Regions from separate parts of the Homo sapiens genome. Here regions 1 and 3 are each linked to region 2. A link means that fine-mapping ties the variant in region 2 to the plasma level of a protein whose gene starts in the linked region. Region 2 holds a variant in brackets. A gene starts in each other region. All regions are shown on their reverse strands.

Region 1 (5,000 bases), not on the chromosome of region 2:
GCAATCCCCTTACCTGGCTATCCATCTTTGGAAGGACAGTAGACCCTAGGATGATGGTGGCAGAGCCGAGAATCAGGAGGGGGTTTGGGACTCTGGGATCAACCAGTGAATAGGGCTGGATGGCTCACCCAAGCATGGGACATTGAGGACAGGGCTGGACGTGGGAGCTTAGCAGTGAGTCTGGAGCTTGGATGTCCCGAAACCCCAGCTTCCCGTCACCCCCCATCATACCTCCCACCCCCTCCGGGAAGGGAAATTACATTTCCCCATTTTAGCAAGGGGTGGCGAGAGGGAAGAATGAGTGAACACAAAGCTGAAAGTACAAGCAGGACGGAAAGTGAAACCGGGCACAGCCCCCAGTATAAGACCCCCCCTACCCAGGAGATGGCTGACCAAAGAGGCTGGGCCCCGCCATGGGCCAGACGGCAGGCGACCTTGGCTGGCGTGAGTTTGAAGCCAGGGGTGGGGGGCTTGGTTGAGTTTGGGCAGAGAATGGACGAGCTTGGCTGGTGCAGATGGGGGGTCGAGAGCTGAGAGCAGCAACTTGGCCAAGACTGAGGATTCGGCTGGCTGCTGCATGGGAAGGGAGGCTGGCATGACTGGGTGGGGGCCTGGGGCAGTGGGGTGGTGGTCTGACCCAGGGCTGGGCAGAGGATGAGAAGGAGGCCTTGGCTAGTGGGAATGGGGAGGGTTGGACCAGCAATTTGACAAGGACCAGGTCTAGGCAGATAAATGAAGAGTTTGGAGTGAATAAGCAGAAGCCAAACAGCTTGGCTAAGACTGAGAATGGGGCCGGCTGGAGGAAGAGCAGAACGAGGTGCTGGCACAAGTGGAGCACTGGGACCAAGATGTCAGCAGCCTCACTGGGTCAAAGGTCTTTAGTTTGATGTTGGAAAGAGGTCCAATCTGCGGCTGGTGGCTGCAGAACTCAGGGGCTAGAACCAGAGCAGTAGGCAGTGGAGAAGGTAACATGCCACGTAGGGCAGGTAGGGACCAAAGGCTGGAGGATGGAGACAGAGCCTTCAAAGGCCAGAGCCAATGACCCAGGATCAGCTGCAGAGGGTAAGGAGGGGGTCTGGGGTCTCCAGAGGTCAGGTTGGAGATGGCACAGCTCACTTACGGTTGGGCTTGATCCACCAGGGCCTGGGGGCACCCACCCTGTCCCCAACATTGAGCTAGGAAGAACCCCACTCTGCCTTAAGTCTCCAGGATGTCAGAGGGTCCGAGTGGCCCCAAAACCAGGGAGTCTGAATGCCAGAGATCTTACGTTAGGCATCGCCCACCACATCTGCAAGCCCACGAGGGAGGTAGATGTCCCTAGAAGCTCCCCTTCACCTTTATCAGGGGACATTTCGAAGAGCAGAGCCCAGGGGTTAGAGATTGAGAGAGGACAGGGAAGAGGCAGGGAGAGAAGGGAGAGCAGGATGGACTTCGGGCCAGTTTTGGTTTGTGTTTCGAGGAGAATTGTGTAACTCTTGTGCTTGCTAGATTTCCTCTCCCTGAGGGGGAAATTGATGAATGCTGCCCTCTTCCTAGAGCGCCCATCCGCTGCCCCTCTTTCCAGGAAAACACAGGTCAGGAAGCACACTCGGAATTCAGCCATTCTGGGCTGGGCGCAGTGGCTGATGTCTGTAATCCCAGCACTTTGGGAGGCCAAGGCAGGCGGATCACCTGAGGTCAGGAGTTGGAGACCAGCCTGGCCAACACGGCAAAACCCCTCTCTACTAAATATAATAAAAATTAGCCAGGCGTGGTGGCTACTCAGGAGGCTGAGGCAGGAGAATTGCTTTAACCTGGGAGGTGAAGGTTGCAGTGAGTCGAGATCGCGCCACTGCACTGCAGCCTGGGTGACAGAGTGAGAATCTGTCTTAAAAAAAAAAAAGCTCCCATACTGTGGATTCGCCCCAGGCAGGTTACCCTGCTAGGATCCACCTGCCGTGGTGGAAACTGGACAAACCTGTCCTTTTGACTCCCTGGAATAGAGCCTCTGGCATTGCCAGCCCATCCCTGGGGACCTCATGGCCAGTTCAAGCCATCAGAGCCGCTTGGCTGAGCCCAAAGAATCCTTGCCAGAACATGGTGTGCCCACTCCTGGGGCAGATGGCTGCCTCCCTCTGCATTCTCTGGGGAAAACCCATGGGCTCTGCATTTGGAAAAACCTGGAATCCAGTCCTGGCTTCCCACCTTCTGGCTATTTGACCTTGGGCAAGTCAACCTCACTGAGCCTCACCTGCAAATTGGGGAGAACAATAGCACTGAGGCTGCCACACGTGGTTGTGCAGGTTGCTCACTGAAAAAGGCATTTGGCCAAGGGAGTTTATGGGGGTCAAAATCCAGTCTCTGTCCCGGCACAGTGGCTCATGCCTGTGATCCCAGCAATTTGGGAGGCTGAGGCGGGAAGATCTCTTGAGGCCAGGAGTTCAAGACCAGCCTGGGCAACATAGTGAGACCCTGTCTCTACAAAAAAATAGAAACAGTTAGGCACAGTGGTGTGTCCCTGTGATCCCAGCTACTTGGGAGGCTGAGGCGAGAGGATCACTTGAGCCTAGGAGTTCAAGGCTACAGTGAGCTGTGATCACACCACTACACTCCAGGCTGGGTGATAGAACAGAACTCTGTTTCAAAAAAAAAAAAAAAGGATCAGGCTTCTGGTCTTTTTGCAAAAGTGGGCACACCATGCGGAGATGCCATATGGGGGCCGTGCTGGCTGCATCGTGGGGTTTTGTTTTGTTTTGTTTTGTTTTGTTTTTTTGAGACAGAGTCTGGCTCTGTCGCCCAGGCTGGAGCACAGTGGTGTTAGCTCACTGCAGCCTCTGCCTCCCAGGTTCAAGCGATTCTCCTGCCTCAACCTCCTGAGTAGCTGGGATTACAGGCATGCACCACCACGCCCAACTAATTTTTGTATTTTTAGTAGAGACAGGGTTTCGCCATGTTGGCCAGGCTGGTCTTGAACTCCTGGCCTCAGGTGATCCGCCCGCCTCGGTCTCCTAAATTGTTGGGATTACAGGTGTGAGTCACCGCACCCAGCCTCCATTGTGGTTTTGAGGAGGCAGAGGAATGATGCTGGTCAAAGTGCCTGCACCGTGCTCACAGCTAGCACAGGCTCAGAAAAGGCATGTTCCCTTCCTTCTCAAGCTCTCTCCCTGTCTTGCCACCCTCTTCCCATCTCTCCAGGGCTCAGCCTGTTGCTGCTTCCCTTGCTCCTGGTTCAAGCTGGTGTCTGGGGATTCCCAAGGCCCCCAGGGAGGCCCCAGCTGAGCCTGCAGGAGCTGCGGAGGGAGTTCACAGTCAGCCTGCATCTCGCCAGGAAGCTGCTCTCCGAGGTTCGGGGCCAGGCCCACCGCTTTGTAAGTCCCCCTAATGCAGCTGGCGCTGGAGATGGGCAGACCCCCAATCCCTTCTGGCCCCCACTAACAGACCTTGCCCCCCAGGCGGAATCTCACCTGCCAGGAGTGAACCTGTACCTCCTGCCCCTGGGAGAGCAGCTCCCTGATGTTTCCCTGACCTTCCAGGCCTGGCGCCGCCTCTCTGTGAGTGAGGGCTGGTGGAGTGGGGCGGGAAGCTTGTGATAGGCTGGGGCCAGGGTGCAAGATGAGGCTGGAGATTGAGCTGGAGATGCATTGGGGATAGAACCTGGATAAGGCTGAATATGTCATTGGACATAGAGATGAAAGACAGGCATGGTGACTTACACCTATAAACCCAGCACTTTGGGAGGCCCAGGTGGAAGGACTGCTTGAGGCCAGGAGTTCAAGACCAGTCTGGGCAACATAGTGAAACTTTGTCTCTACAAAAAAAAATTTAAGAGTTAGCCAGGCATGGTGGTGTACACCTTTGGTCCCAGCTACTCAGGAGGCTGACATGGGAGGATTGCTTGAGCTCAGGAGTTGGAGGCTGCAGTGAGTTATGATCCTGGACTCCAGGATGGAGAACAGAGGGAAACCCTGTCTCAGAAAAATAAATAAACTGCCAGGCGTGGTGGCTCATGCCTGTAATCCCAGCACGTTGGGAGGCTGAGGAGCACGGATCACCTGAGGTCAAGAGTTCAAGACCAGCCTGGCCAACATGGCGAAACCCCATCTCTACTAAAAAATACAAAAATTAGCTGAGCGCAGTGGCTCACGACTGTAATCCCAGCACTGTGGGAGGCTGATGTGGGTGGATCACCTGAGGTCAGGAGTTCGAGACCAGCCTGACCAACATGAAGAAACCCCACCTCTACTAAAAATACCAAATTAGCCGGGTATGGTGCTGTGCGCCTGTAATCCCAGCTACTCGGGAGGCTGAGGCAGGAGAATTACTTGAACCCAGGAGGTGGAGGTTGCAGTGAGATGAGATCGCGCCACTGCACTCCAGCCTGGGCAACAGAGCGAGACTCCATCTCAAAACAAACCAACAATAAAGATGAAGCTGGAATAAGGAAGTGGGGTTGGGAAGAGGTAAGAGTGGAGCTAGGCATGGAACGCGGCAGGCATGGGACTGGAATGAGGCTGGAGACAGATCACAGCAGCATGGAGGGTGGGTGGAGGTGGCACTGGGGGTGAGAATGCGGATAGTTAGAGATGAGAAGGTGATGATGAGGGTGAACGTTAAGCATGGGATGGAGAAGGGATGGGGATTGCTGGTGGGGAAGGGAATGGAATAGGGTTAGGAATGAGGTTGGAGATGGGATGGAAAGATGGAAAGAGTGAGTCTGGGCACATGGAGGAAGGATGGAGTTGGGGTTAGGAATGGGAATGAGGCTGAAGATGGGATGGAAACACATGGGCAGGAGGTATGATGGGATGGTGGAGGAGGGAAGGGAACAGGGCTGTGGATGGAGAGTGCTTCAGGGACTGAGAGGGGGTGGGTTAGAGAAGATCATTGGCATAGGAGTGAAAGGGAGGCTGGAAAAGGAGATGGGACAAATGTCCCAGACAGTGGAGATGGAAGGAATGGGGACACAGCTGGGCTGAGGTGGGGGAAGAGCTACAGGGATGGACTGGAGGCTGGAGCGTGGA
Region 2 (8,241 bases):
AACACAAGCACTGTGACACCATGACAAGCCATCTGATCACTGAGACAGCTACTAAGTGACTAACGGGTGGGTAACCTGGACAAGGGGAGGATTCCATTCAGGATGGGATGGAGCAGGATGGCTTCAGATTTCATCATATTGAGAGGTGAAGCCAGCTGGATTTCCTGGGTCGAGTGGGGACTTGGAGAACTTTTCTGTCTTAGGAGAGGATTGTAAAATGCACCAATTAGCATTCTGTAGCTCGGATTGTAAAATGCACCAATCAGCGCTCTGTAGCTAGCAAGAGGATTGTAAAATGCACCAATCAGTGCTTTGTAAAATGCGCCAATCAACGCTCTGTAAAATGCACCAATCAGCAGAATCCTAAAAGTAGCCAATCACAGGGAGGATTGAAAAAAGGGCATTCTGATAGGACAGAAACAGAACATCAGAGAGGTCAAATAAGGGAATAAAAGCTGGCCACCCCAGCCAGCAGCGGCAACCCGCTGGGGTCCCCTTCCACCCTGTGGAAACTTTGTCCTTTTGCTCTTCACAATAAACCTTGCTACTGCTCACTCTTTGGGTCCAAGCCATCTTTAAGAGCTGTAACACTCACTGCGAAGGTCCGCGGCTTCATTCTTGAAGTCAGAGAGACCACAAACCCACCAGCAGAAACCAACTCCGGACACAACATTACTCAGGATGGCACACAATTTAAAACTAATAAATTGTTTCTGAAATTTTCCATTTAATATTTTCAGAACAAAATTGACCACAGGTAACTGAAACCACAGAAAGTGAAGCATTGGGTAAAGGGAAATTACTGCATTTCACAGTACATATCATATATTTTTATTTCTTTGACAAGCAATCAGGTACATCCTTGTATCTTCTCCTGTAAAGTTGCTTTTTGATTTGTTTGGTGCATTTTCTCAAATCGTATCTCATATTCACAGCTCTGCCCAGGTCAGCAGAGATTCCTAATACACTAGAAAGAACACAGTCTTTATTGAATGGCTATGTGGCCTCGGACAAACTCCTCAACCTCTCTGAGCATTAGTGCCCTTATCTCTAAAACAAAATTAGTAACACCCATTTTAGGGGCTATGACAGTTAAATGAGGAAGCGTTTAAGCAATATGTCATCTATAGCATTGCACACTGATGTCTCCTCCACATCAAGACTAGTTTTAAGGTCAGGAATAACTGTTGCCAACTGGCAGAATCAGTTTTTTTCTTCTACACTTGCTTTCAGGTATACAAAAAAGATGTAAGAAGTATAAAAGATGAAACGATTTTCCTCCATATGAGCAGTTTTGCCTCCAACACCTAATGTTTCCTTTTTTCCTACCTACACTCATCACAGAAGACATGTGATTTAAAAGAAGACTCTCAAAGGTTTCCTTTCAAACAAGACAAGTCCCATGGGGTAGGTCAATTCTCTCAACTGGGACAGTTTCTTAAAGCAAGAGTTGGTAGCTTCCTCCCCAGGGCCATCTGCTGGCCATCAGGTGGGACAGATTCCAGGGAAGGTGGAGGTGGGGTGCTAGGCTGAGCAGAGCAGTAATCTCTGCATCCTTGACCCCATGCCAGAGGACAGGGGCCACTGTCTCCTTCTTGTTTTCAAGGGAGAAAATAGAAACTGGTCCCTCTGCTTGAGAAGGGCCACCTCTCCCTTGGGTTAAGCAAGAGCTTTCCAGATCTCTGCCAGGTGGTGGCCCTCAATGGCCTCTGCCACATCATCCCTGCACCTGAAGTCTCCTTAATGCTCTTCCATAAACCTACTCAGTCATTACTTAAATAGGGAAATTTTCCATGAGCATGGCCTGCCCTTCCAGCCCTGACACTCTCCAAACAGCACTTTATCCCCCTGCTGGTGGAGAGCAAACAAACACCCTCCTTGGGGGCTGGGGCTGAATCAAGGCTCTGAGCCCTAGGGAACCATCCCAGCACCCTGGGTGGTGTTGGTGACACACTTTGGGGAAAAGTCTTCTGCTGGGAGTCAGAGGCCTGAGTTTGAATCCCCAAGTCCACCTGGTGTGGAACCTCCACATCCTGCCTCCTTCATGGAGATGTGGTAGGTTCTGCCTGGACGATCACAAAGAGGTACAGGCAGAAGATGCCTGGAAATTGTACCAACAATGCTAATCATATCCTCTACCCACTGTGTGCCTGCAAATCTCTTCTTCCCCCTCTCTTCTTCCCCTCAGAAGTTGCTGCCAGCCCATGCTGCACAGCCTGAAGGGCAGGGCACACCCTCCCCACACATGCAAACAGACACACACACACATGCACACGCACACAGACATGCACACACATGCCTTGGAGCATCGAGTGCTTCCTTTATCACCCTTAGGTTGTGATAGTACTCCCACCAGGGTCACCAAAGGCAGACATGGTGTGCTTTTACCCTCATTTAGTCCATGGAAGAAGCTCAGTAAGTATCTGTTGAATGAACAAATTAATCTATATTCAATTGAAATTAAAAAAAAAAAAAAAACAAGTGTCCTAGATTTCACTTCGTTTTCCTTTTAAGATTAAAAAAAAGGAGAGGAGAGAGGAAGATGGGGAATAGTACAGTCAAGGTAAAATAATTAGTTCCTTTCCAATTATCTGTTGCACTTTGTAGATTATCAACAAGGCAGGGCCTTCCCCCATGCCTGTAAACCAAACAAGAAAGGGCCTCGGGCTGGCTCTAGAGGGCAACAGTGAGTCCTACTGTGCATTTGTGTCTCTGTATCATTGCACAGACAACCGTAAAAGTGGATTCTGGGGGATCTTCCGTTTTGGAGGGACTACTCTTCTCTCCCACCCATTAGTATGACTAATTGAAAGCTGATTTAATTTCTATGCTTAGACAAACAAACAAACAAATAGAACAAAAATTATCACGGAATATTGAAAGTATTTTATCAACACAAAAACCAACATGCATGTGAGCCTTTTAATCACAGATTTGATTCAGCCTATGCCAACTGAGCACATGATACCTGCCAGGCTCTGAAGATGGAAAGAGGAATCAACACTGTGCTTACCGTCAGGAGCTCTCAGTCGAGGGCAGTTTCTCTACCCAGGCACTTTTCCCATTTTGGGCCAGATAATTCTTTGTTGTGAGCAGCCGAACCAAGCATTTTGGGATGGTTAACAGCATCCCTGGCCTCTCCACCGTAGCTG[C/A]CAGTCAGTAGTAACCTCCCCAAGTTTGGACAACCAAAAATGTCACTGAATGTCTCTGGAGGCAAAATCACCATAGTTTAGAACCACAGGTATAGGAGGAGGAGATTAAGTAAACAGCCACCAAGATGGACCACCCCGCCCGAGGCCCGGCACTCTGGACCCAGCACATGCTGGCAGTGGAGGGGATGCAGACAAAGAAGCTTGTTCTCTGGAGGAGGAACATTGTATGGACCCACGGCTGCTGACATGTGAGTGTATAAATGTGACTCTCCTTCCGCTCCAAGCACCCACATACCATCTTCACCCACCATGGGCTCTAATGAGGGTGGAGATTGCCTTATACAACAGAATAGAGCACTTGGACGAGCAGTCAAGTCTGCCTCATGAAAGACCAGGGAATGGCAGTTTATAGGTGGACTTCTCTGCATGGCACTTGAGGCTCTACCAACCTCAACAGGAAGCAGAATCTGAGTGACAAACCACCTCAGGAAAAAGAAAAAAAAGCTGCCTCATCACAACTCCTTCTGCATTGGCCACAGCGAACAGGGTTTGTGCTGCCCCTCCAGGGGATGTCCCAGCACCCCTACAGGCCCAGTCCCCCATGTGATGTAGAGGCTATAGAATGTTCTTGATTTGTAAGTAGTTTGAGCCACATAAGAGGCCAAAATGTGATTCATACAGCAAAAATTGCCTATAAATGCAGCATCTTGGTGACTGAGGGAGGCAGATTTAGAACTCTCTGTGGCTAGTTTAACAGAGCCCTGGATTACGTCTTGCCAATTTAAGCCGTTCATTCAAACTTGAGAAACGCCCTTCAGGAGGAAGTCGAGAGCCTGAAGCTGGGCTTGCAGGTCAGGCCACAGAATATGAGCCAGGGAGCCAGGGCCCCCACGCGCAGCCTGACCAGAGAGCTCCCCGGTGTCCCTCTCAACAGAAATACGAGCAAGACCTTGGTAGCCCCCCTCCACCACGCCATGAAATGGGTAGGCACCAGCCTCAGGCTTACTGTCAAGCGATCCACCAGGCCAGGGCGACACGGTGCCAGTCAAGGGAATATACAGAAGTCAGCAATGGGCTCTAGCCCTGCAGTAGTTAACCCTGTGCCTCCCCACACCCAGCAGACCTGCCACAAACACCAGCCTGGACAGTCGTCCATAGGGGTCTCCCACTGACAGAGCTGGCCTCCCCTGGCCCTGGCAGAAGGGCAGCTCCTCTCAGTAATCCAGGAAATATGCTGGGGGCTTCCTCCAAGCTCATTCTCTCTCCGTCCTGCTCTCTGCCCTGCACTCAGCGACATTCAACCCAGTGGGAGCTGGAGTGACCCCGGCTATGTTCACCTCTGCGGCCAGGACAGAACATGGAGCGCCTTTCTCACTGGTGAGGTCTGGAAACAGCTGCCCCCCATTTCCCGGATCTCTGGGAGAGGCCCGCGGACCAGAGAGTTTTCCAGGTGGTTGAGATGAGCAATGCCTTCAGGAACATGGCCTCAGGCACCTGTATTTCACGGAGGGATGTCATCCCAGCGCCCTGAGGGCTCTCAGGACCACAGACCAGAGCACTGGTTCTGCTCTGCAGCCACCTTGCAGTGAAAAACAAGGTGGTGCCTCGGGCTGCACCACCCCACCACGAGGGCCTCACTGAAGCACCACACAGTCTAGGGCGTCCAGAGCTGATGGAAGACCTGACTGCACCTGTGTTGTCGTGGAACGCCTTAGAAAGAGGAATGGGCTAAACTGAGTGCAGTCACACAGCTTGCAACCTGCCTTCATTGAAAATGACAATGTGGCTCAATGTGAACTCAAAGGCCTCACCCTGGGCACGTAAAACAAGTAATTCCACATAAAGAACCCCCTCAAACCATACCCAGAAGCACTTGGAAAAAGTGTCAACACGGCCTCAGACACAGTGTTCTCACCTCAAAAAAGTGATCCAGAGACTCCCCTATCTTAACTCTCTTTAATTCAAGTTCACTGAGCATAATTTAATTACAATAAAATTCACCTGATTTAGGTGTCACAGTACTATGAATTTTGGAAAATATATACAGTCGTGTCACCACCACAATCAAGATTTAGAATCTGTCCGTCAACCCCCAAAAATCCCTCACTTTGCTTTCTAGTCAACTCCTCCACCCACCTGGTGAGTACGGGTCTGCTTTCTTCCCTATAGTTTGCTCTTTTCCAGAATGTCATGCAAAAAGAATCACACAGTAAGGGCACTTTTGAGTCTGGCTTTTTCCACTCAGCAGAATGTCTTTTTATTGCTGAGTAGTATCTCACTGTATGGAAGTGACACAGTCTGTTTACCCACTTCCCAATGGAAGGACATTTGGAATTGTCTTCAGTTTGAGGCTATTATGAATGGAGAAGCCATGCATACACGTCTTGGTGTGCACTAACGTTTTCATTTCTCTCCTTTAAGTATCCGGGAGTGTAATCTCTGGGTCTATGGTAAAGGTATGTTTAACATCATAAGAAACTTCCAAAGTGTTTTTCCAAAGTGGCCGTACCATTTCGCCTTCCACCAGCAATGTATCAGAGTTGCAGTTTCTCCACATCCTCATCATCACTTCATATTATCAGCGTGGTTTTTTTGTTTGTGTTTGTGTTGGGAAGTTTTGATGAGGGTCAATTTGATGGTATTGAAGTTTTAAGCCATCCTAACATATATGTAATGGTATCTCATTCTACCTTAATTTGCATTTCCTTAATGACTAATGAGGGTGAGCATCCCTTCATGGTCTTATTTGCCATCTATGCATCTTGTTTGGTGAATAATCAGTTCGAGTATTTTTTGCCCATTTATTACATTGAGTTGTTTCATTTTCTTGTGAAGGGGCTGTAAGAGTTCTACATACTCTGGATACAACTTCTTTATCAGATATGTGTTTTACAAATATTTTGTCCCCATGTGTGGCTTGTCTTTTTATTTCTTTGCAGTGTTTTTCAAAGAGCAGCTGTTTTTAATTTTGATAAAATCCATTTTTGCCAACTTTTTCCTTGACAGTTCATACTTTCTGTGTCTGAAGAAAGTTTTCTCTAAGCCAAGACCACAAAGATTTTCTTCTATGTTTTCTTCCAGAAGGTTTACGGTTTTAGGCTTTACATTTAGGTTCATGATCCATCTTTGTTGCTTGTACATGCTACAAGGTATGTGGTATGGGTTTTTCTTGGTTTTTGAATTTTTATATGGATGTCCAATTGCTCCATTTATTTAAAAGATTATCCTTTCTCCACTGAATCATTTTGGCGCCTTTGTTGAAAATCCATTGATCATTCATGTGGGGTCTGCTCCTGACTTCTTCCTATGTCCCATTGGACTACAAGTCTGTCCTTTTGCCTACATGTCCTATAGTCTGCTCTTGATTACTGCAGCTTTACAGCGATTCTGAAAATGAGGTACTGGAAGTCTTCCAGCTCTGTTCTTTTTCAAAATTGCTTGGCTGGTCTAGTTCTGTTTTTTGTTTGTTTGTTTGTTTGTTTGTTTGTTTTTCTCACTCTGTCACCCAGTCTGGAGTGCAGTAGTGCAATCGCGGCTCACTGCAACCTCCACCTCCCGGGTTCAAGCAATTCTCCTGCCTCAGCCTCTTGAGTAGCTGGGATTACAAGCACGTGCCACCACGCCTGGCTAATTTTTGTACTTTTAGTAGAGACAAGGTTTCACCATGTTGGCCAGGCTGGTCTCGAACTCCCGACCTCAGGTGATCCACCTGCCTCAGCCTCCCAAAGTGCTGGGATTACAGGCGTGAACCACGGCACGCAGCCTAGGTCTTTTGCCTTTCCATAAAATTTTTTGAATTATCTTGCCAATTTCTACACAAAATCTTACTGGGATTTTAATTTGAGCTGTGTTGAATCTCCTGATCAATTTCATGTGGATGTCTTAGTCTTTGAAAGTAAGGGAGGGGTCATTTTCCAGGGGGATATCATTCAAGAAAGACTAACCAGTTCCTCCCAGACCTGTGGACACAGTAGGGCTTTGTTAAATGGCCTTGGCTGTAAGGACATAGAGGGGCACTTGTGGAGGGAACAGGGATGCCGCCTGCCTTTCCCACCTGTTGCCTGAGGCAGACAGGAAGGAGAAGAAATAGAGCTAGGCTCTGACCTGAGAAGCTGCCCTGAGACCCAACAACAGAAAAGAGCATGGAGCATGGTTCCTTGATAGATCTGAAAAGGAGACGATAAAGGGGGGCTGTTGGAGGGTGAGTTCACTGGTCGGCGAGAGACAAGGGAAGTTAATCCTCCATGGGAAATAGCAAAAGCAAGGGGTGGATGTGGCAGGAAGCTCAGCGTGAGGAGACAGCAGCGTGAGGAGTGAGGTCTGAATCCCGTGCTAAAGGTCAGGATTCTGCTGTCTACACGGGGAAGCCCAAGGGGCCTTCTTAGTGGGAGGGGCGTGGTCAGATCTGTGTTTGCGAAAGATCCTCTGGTCACTGGTCAGCAGGCAGAAGGCTCCCCGGAGACCACTGTGTAGGTGTGGCAGCATACATGTCATGAGCAGGTTTGACTGGGAAATGGTCACGTGGTCAGAGCAGAAGGCACCAAAAGCACAAGGCCACCAACCCAAAGGAGACAGGGGACTAAAGGGGTATAGGAGAGGCACAGAAAAGACACATCCATCTGCTACATTAACCTCTGGACCCCGAAGGGCATTTACCCTTCTCCTAGCAAATCCACAGCCCCATGCCACGCTCTGCCATGAGATGCTGACAACCACCCTCGGCCCTCAAGAGTCTCACTAAGGAAAAGCATATGACTTGGGCACTCCGTGAATATTCATAGGCTGCCATTTAGGGGCAATATTTTGTGTTAAGGCCATCAAAAACGCAACCATCCAAAAGATGGCTTTGTTTTAAGATTATACCATTGGGGTTGAATAATTTCTTGGCAACCCTGTGTATATCTGGTTGGAGCCTCACTGTGAAGTCTGAAAAAGAGACAGATGGAACAGTCTACCAGAGAGCCTCAGTGACAGAAACAACTATTCCCTGGAAGGGGAAAAAAGGGCAGAAAGGCATTTTTGTTTATTTTTACAAAATTTGGAGGAAAACGGTCTCCTCAGCTGTCTCCACAAGATCAAACCAGCCCCA
Region 3 (5,202 bases), not on the chromosome of region 2:
ACCTCGGCCTCCCAAAGTGCTGGGATTACAGGCGTGAGCCACCGCGCCTGGCCATGCCCAGCTAATTTTAAAAATTGTTTTTAGAGACAGGGTCTCACTATTTTGCCCAAGCTGGACTCAAACTCCTGACCTCAAGTGATCCTCCCACATCAGCCTCCCAAAGTACTGGGATTACAGGCATGTGCCACTGTGCCCAACCCAGGAAGTAGTTTTTTTTTTTTTTTTTTGAGATGGAGTCTTGCTCTGTTGCCCAGGCTGGAGTGCAATGGTGCCATCTTGGCTCACTGCAACCTCCGCCTCCTGGGTTCAAGCTATTCTCCTGCCTCAGCCTCCGGAGTAGCTGGGATTACAGGCATGAGCCACTGCACCTGACCAATTTTTAAAATTTTTCGTAGAGACAGTGTCTCACTACGTTGCCCAAGCTGGTCTCAAACTCCTGACCTCAAGCAATCTGCCCACCTCGGCCTCCCAAAGCGCTGGGATTACAGGCATGCACCACTGTGCCTGGCCCAGAAAGTATATTTCTATTGGACGGGGCCGCCCTAGAATTCCATAGGCCTGGGGTTCAGGATGTCGGGGTCTCCAGTTTTCCTGACCCCAGGGCTCTCAGGGCCAGAGTTCTGGGCTCTCCAGGAAGTCCAGTGTCCCTGAGGCCCCCTTCCAGGCTCTCCGACCTGTACGTGGCAATGAAGGACACGGGGCTGGTGGAGTTTGGAGCAGGCGGCAGGGTCCAGGAGCAATCCACGGCGATCGGGTACCGAGAGGCTCGGCATTGCACCCGGGGCAGTGTCAGAGCTGCTGGGGGCCCTGGAGGAAGACAGAAAGAGTGAGCTTCTGGTTTACCCCCAGATTGTCATAGCCCTCCCGTGCGCTGGGCTCCTGCCACGTTGCCAGCCAGCACCAGGTACATGGTAGGTGCCTAATAAAGGCTTTCGGAATAAATAGGTACATGGACAAAAGTCATCTGTCATCTTTTATCCCCACTGCAATCCATCTAGGTGAGGACTACTAGCCCATTTTCCAGATAGGGAAGCTGAGGTTTAAGCATCTACAGAGAGGAACTCGGGTAAGAGAGAGAGATTTTACCGTGTTCTCTCTTTTGTAATTGTTTTTTTTTTTTAAAGAGGGAGTCTCCCTCTGTCGCCTAGGCTGGAGTGCAGTGGCGAGATCTCGGCTCACTGCCACCCCCGCCTCCCGGGTTCAAGCGATTCTTAGCCTCCCGAGTAGCTGGGATTACAGGCATGTACTGCCACGCTTGGCTAATTTTTGTATTTTTAGTAGAGAGGGAGTTTCACCATGTTGGCCAGGCTGGTCTCAAACTCCTGACCTCAGGTGATCCACCTGCCTTGGCCTCCCAAAGTGCTGGAATTACAGGCGTGAGCCACCAAACCCAGCCTATAAATTATTATTATTATTATTATTTTGAGACAAGGTATCCCACTCTGTCACCTAGGCTGGAATGCAGTGGCACAATCATAGCTCACTGCAGCCTCCAATTCCTGGGCTCAAATTATCCTCCCACCTCAGCCTCCCAAGTAGCTGGGACTACAGGCACGTGCCACCACATCTAGCTAATTTTTTAATTTTTTGTACAGATTGGTGGGGTCCGGTTTCACTATGTTGCCCAGGCTGGTCTCGAATTCCTGGCCTCACGATCCTCACGCCCTGGCCTCCCAAAGTGCTGGAATTACAGGCATGAGCCACCATGCCCTGCTGTAACCATTTTGTCTTCAAGGACATGGAGATGTTCTCTAGTGCAAAATGAATGAATGTCGGCCGGGCGCGGTGGCTCACATCTGTCATCCCAGCACTTTGGGAGCCCGAGGTGGGTGGATCACCTGAGGTCAGGAGTTCAAGACCACCCTGGCCAACATGGTAAAACCCTATCTCTACTAAAAATATAAAAAGTAGCCGGGCATGGTGGCGGGCACCTGTAATCCCAACTACTCGGGAGGCTGAGGGAGGAGAATCTCGCTTGAACCCAGGAGATGGAGGTTTCAGTGAGCTGAGATGGTGCCACTGTACTCCAGCCTGGGCGACAGAGTGAGACTCTGTCTCAAAAAACAAAACCAAAAAGAAACCAAAGGAATGAGTGTGACTCAAATTCGCATGTCTGTGTAGCTATGTCTGTGTAGCTCTATGGATACCTCTGAGCTGTGACTGCCAGTCCCTATCACCCACAAGGTGACATCCTTCCACCCCCAATGTGGCACTCTGCCTCTCTGTGCCTCAGTTCCTCCATCTGTACAATGGGAGGGTAACCCCATCCCACCATTGGGCACGGGAGGATGTGATTTCCCACCCCAGACATGATCCGAGGCCAGTCCTCGTGTCATGTCCGTCTGCCTGGGCCCCCCAGTCCCCCAGGGGCCCCACATACCTTTCCTTCCACTGCAGGGCGGGCAGCTGGCCCAGAGGACAAGGGCCAGGAGAAGCTGCGGGGTCATGGCTGCGGCCAGCTCTGCTCTCAGGAGTGGGTGGGAACGTCGTGGGAGACTTGAGAGGGGAGGTGAGGACTTGGGACCTGCCCAGGGGAAAGCCCAGCCCAGGGTCAAGGCCCGCCCCCTCCCCGACTTCCTTCAGGTCTGACTCACTGGTGGGGCTCGTGGGGCCGCTAGGGAGATGAATTAGGGTGTGGAGGAGCCCCAGCCCCCTGGGGAGCACAGGCCACCCCTGCTCGGAAGGCCCCGAGGGTGGGGGCGGGGGAGGAGGCTGTGAAAGGGAGAAGTGGAGACCTGCTGGCTTTTCCCAGCACAGCATGTCCTGCTGGCCTTCCTTCCGCTGCCCTGAAGCGGGGGAAACCCCAGGCAGGCAGGCAGGGGCTCAGGGACATGGAGGGAGACAGAGGCAGAGATGGGGGAGAGAGGCAGAGAGACAGAGAAGACAGAAGGAAGACACAGAGAGACAGGGAGATGACAGAGACAGAGACACAGAGAGAGACACAGATGAGAGAGGCAGAGAGACAGAGACAAGAAGAGGAGGACACAGAGATAGAGGGATACAGAGACAGGGAGATGACAGAGACAGAGACAGAGAGACACAGATGAAAGAGGCAGAGAGACAGAGACGAGAGGAGGAGGACACAGAGATAGACAGGGAGATGACAGAGAGACACAGAGACACAGATGAAAGAGGCAGAGAGAAAGAGACGAGAGGAGGAGGACACAGAGAGAGAGAGACAGAGACAGGGAGATGACAGAGACAGAGACAGAGAGAGACACAGATGAGAGAGGCAGAGAGAAAGACAAGAGGAAGAGGACAAAGAGATAGAGAGACAGGGAGACGACAGAGACAGAGAGAGATACAGATGAGAGAGACAGAGATGAGAGGAGGAGGACACAGAGATAGATAGAGACAGGGAGATGACAGACAGAGAAAGGGGCATGACAGAGACAGAAACACAGAGAGAGACACAGAGATGAGAAAGGCAGAGATGAGAGGAGGAGGACACGGAGATAGACAGGGAGATGACAGAGACAGAGACAGAGACAAAGATGAGAGAGTCAGAGAGACAGATGAGAGGAGGACACAGAGATAGAGGGATAGAGAGACAGGGAGATGACAGAGACAGAGAGAGCTACAGATGAGAGAGGCAGAGAGACAGATGAGAGGAGGACACAGAGATAGAGGGATAGAGAGACAGGGAGATGACAGAGAAAGTGACAGAGATACAGATGAGAGAGGCAGAGAGACAAATGAGAGGAGGACACAGAGATAGAGAGAGACAGAGACAGGGAGATGACAGAGACAGAGAGAGATACAGATGAGAGAGGCAGAGAGACAGAGACGAGAGGAGGAGGACACAGAGATAGAGAGACAGGGAGATGACAGAGACAGAGAAAGGGGGATGACAGAGACAGAAACACAGAGAGAGACAGAGATGAGAGGAGGAGGACACAGAGATAGATAGGGAGATGATAGAGACAGAGAGAGACAGGGGAATGAGAGAGACAGAGACAGAGATGAGAGGAGGAGGACACAGAGACAGAGAGAGACAGGGAGATGATGGAAACAGAAAGAGAAACACAGAGAGCAGACAGACAGAGGAAGAGAGACAGAGGGACAGAGATAAGAGAGGAAGACAGAGATAGGGAAATGAGAGAGACACAGAGACAGAGATAAGGGAGGAAGACAGAGAAAGAGAGACACAGATGGGAAGATGAGAGACAGAGACAGAGAGACAGAGATGAGAGAGTAGGATAGACAGAGATAGAGAGATGGTGGGGCACGGTGGCTCACGGCTGTAATCCCAGCACCTTGGGAGGCCAAGGCAGATGGATCACCTGAGGTTGGGAGTTCGAGACCAGCCTGACCAAAATGGTGAAACCCTGTCTCTACTAAAAATACAAAAATTAGCTGGGCGTGGTGGCAGGCACCTGTAATCCCAGCTACTCTGGAGGCTGAGGAAGGAGAATCACTTAAACCTGGGAGGCAGAGGTTGCAGTGAACCAAGATTACACCACTGCACTCCAGCCTGGGTGACAGAGTGAGACTCCATCTCAAAAAGAACAACAACAACAACAAAAAGACTGATGGGGCAATGACAGAGATGGAGAAAGAGAGACAAAAGAGAGACAGAAAGAAGACAGGAAGACAGAAATAGAGATACGGGGAGATGACAGACACAGAAAGAGAGACAGAGAGATAAGAGAAGACGACAGAGGGCCGGGTGTGGTGGCTCACGCCTCTAATCCCAGCACTTTGGGAGGCTGAGGCGGGCGGGTCACAAGGTCAGAAGTTCGAGACCAGCCTGGCCAATATGGTGAAACCCCGTCTCTACTAAAAATACAAGAATTAGCTGGGCGTTGTGGTGCGCACCTGTAATCCCAGCTACTTGGGACGCTGAGGTGGGAGAATCGCTTAAACCTGGGAGGCGGAGGTTGCAGTGAGAGGAGGTTGCAGTGAGCCGAGGTCACGCCACTGCACTCCAGCCTGGGAGATAGAGTGAGACTCTGTGTCAAAAAAAAAAAAAAAAAAAAAGGCTGAGCGTGGGGGCTCACACCTGTAATCCCAGCACTCTGGGAGGCCGAGGCGGGCGGATCACAAGGTCAGGAGATCAAGACCATCCTGGCTGACATGGTGAAACCCCGTCTCCACTAAAAATGCAAAAAAATTAGCCGGGCGTGGTGGCAGGCGCCTGTAGTCCCAGCTACTCAGGAGGCTGAGGCAGGAGAATGGTGTGAACCCGGGAGGCGGAGCTTG

Direction of the effects. Positions count from the first base shown, and alleles are read on the strand shown. Strength reflects both the effect of a copy and how common the allele is.
In carriers of allele A in region 2, the plasma level of the protein whose gene starts at base 391 in region 1 tends to be lower than with C alone (weak association).
As copies of C replace A in region 2, the plasma level of the protein whose gene starts at base 2,475 in region 3 goes up (weak association).

The links. PIP is the chance, under the fine-mapping model, that this variant and not a neighbour inherited with it causes the effect. The UK Biobank Pharma Proteomics Project read protein levels with antibody pairs (Olink). The fine-mapping took linkage between variants from a reference panel, not from the people measured, so its PIPs are less certain.
Region 1: it holds the start of IL27, and the variant in region 2 is fine-mapped to the plasma level of the IL27 protein (UK Biobank, PIP 0.99).
Region 3: EBI3 starts here. The variant in region 2 is fine-mapped to the plasma level of the EBI3 protein (UK Biobank, PIP 0.99).

Annotation. Positions count from the first base shown.
Region 1 is chr16:28,502,225-28,507,224 of GRCh38, reverse strand. IL27 (interleukin 27) reads left to right here and starts at 391. Exons shown (of 5, transcript NM_145659.3): 1 at 391-444; 2 at 3,175-3,347; 3 at 3,432-3,530. The coding sequence starts at 414.
Region 2 is chr2:110,848,151-110,856,391 of GRCh38, reverse strand. The region is part of intron 10 of ACOXL (acyl-CoA oxidase like); the gene reads right to left. Among named protein-coding and RNA genes, the nearest start is that of ACOXL, 120 kb to the right of the region's middle. The variant C/A (reference allele first, on the strand shown) is at 3,153.
Region 3 is chr19:4,226,796-4,231,997 of GRCh38, reverse strand. It overlaps EBI3 (Epstein-Barr virus induced 3), which reads right to left and starts at 2,475. Exons shown (of 5, transcript NM_005755.3): 1 at 2,381-2,475; 2 at 675-807. The coding sequence starts at 2,447. RefSeq lists enhancers at 701-1,202, 2,166-2,255.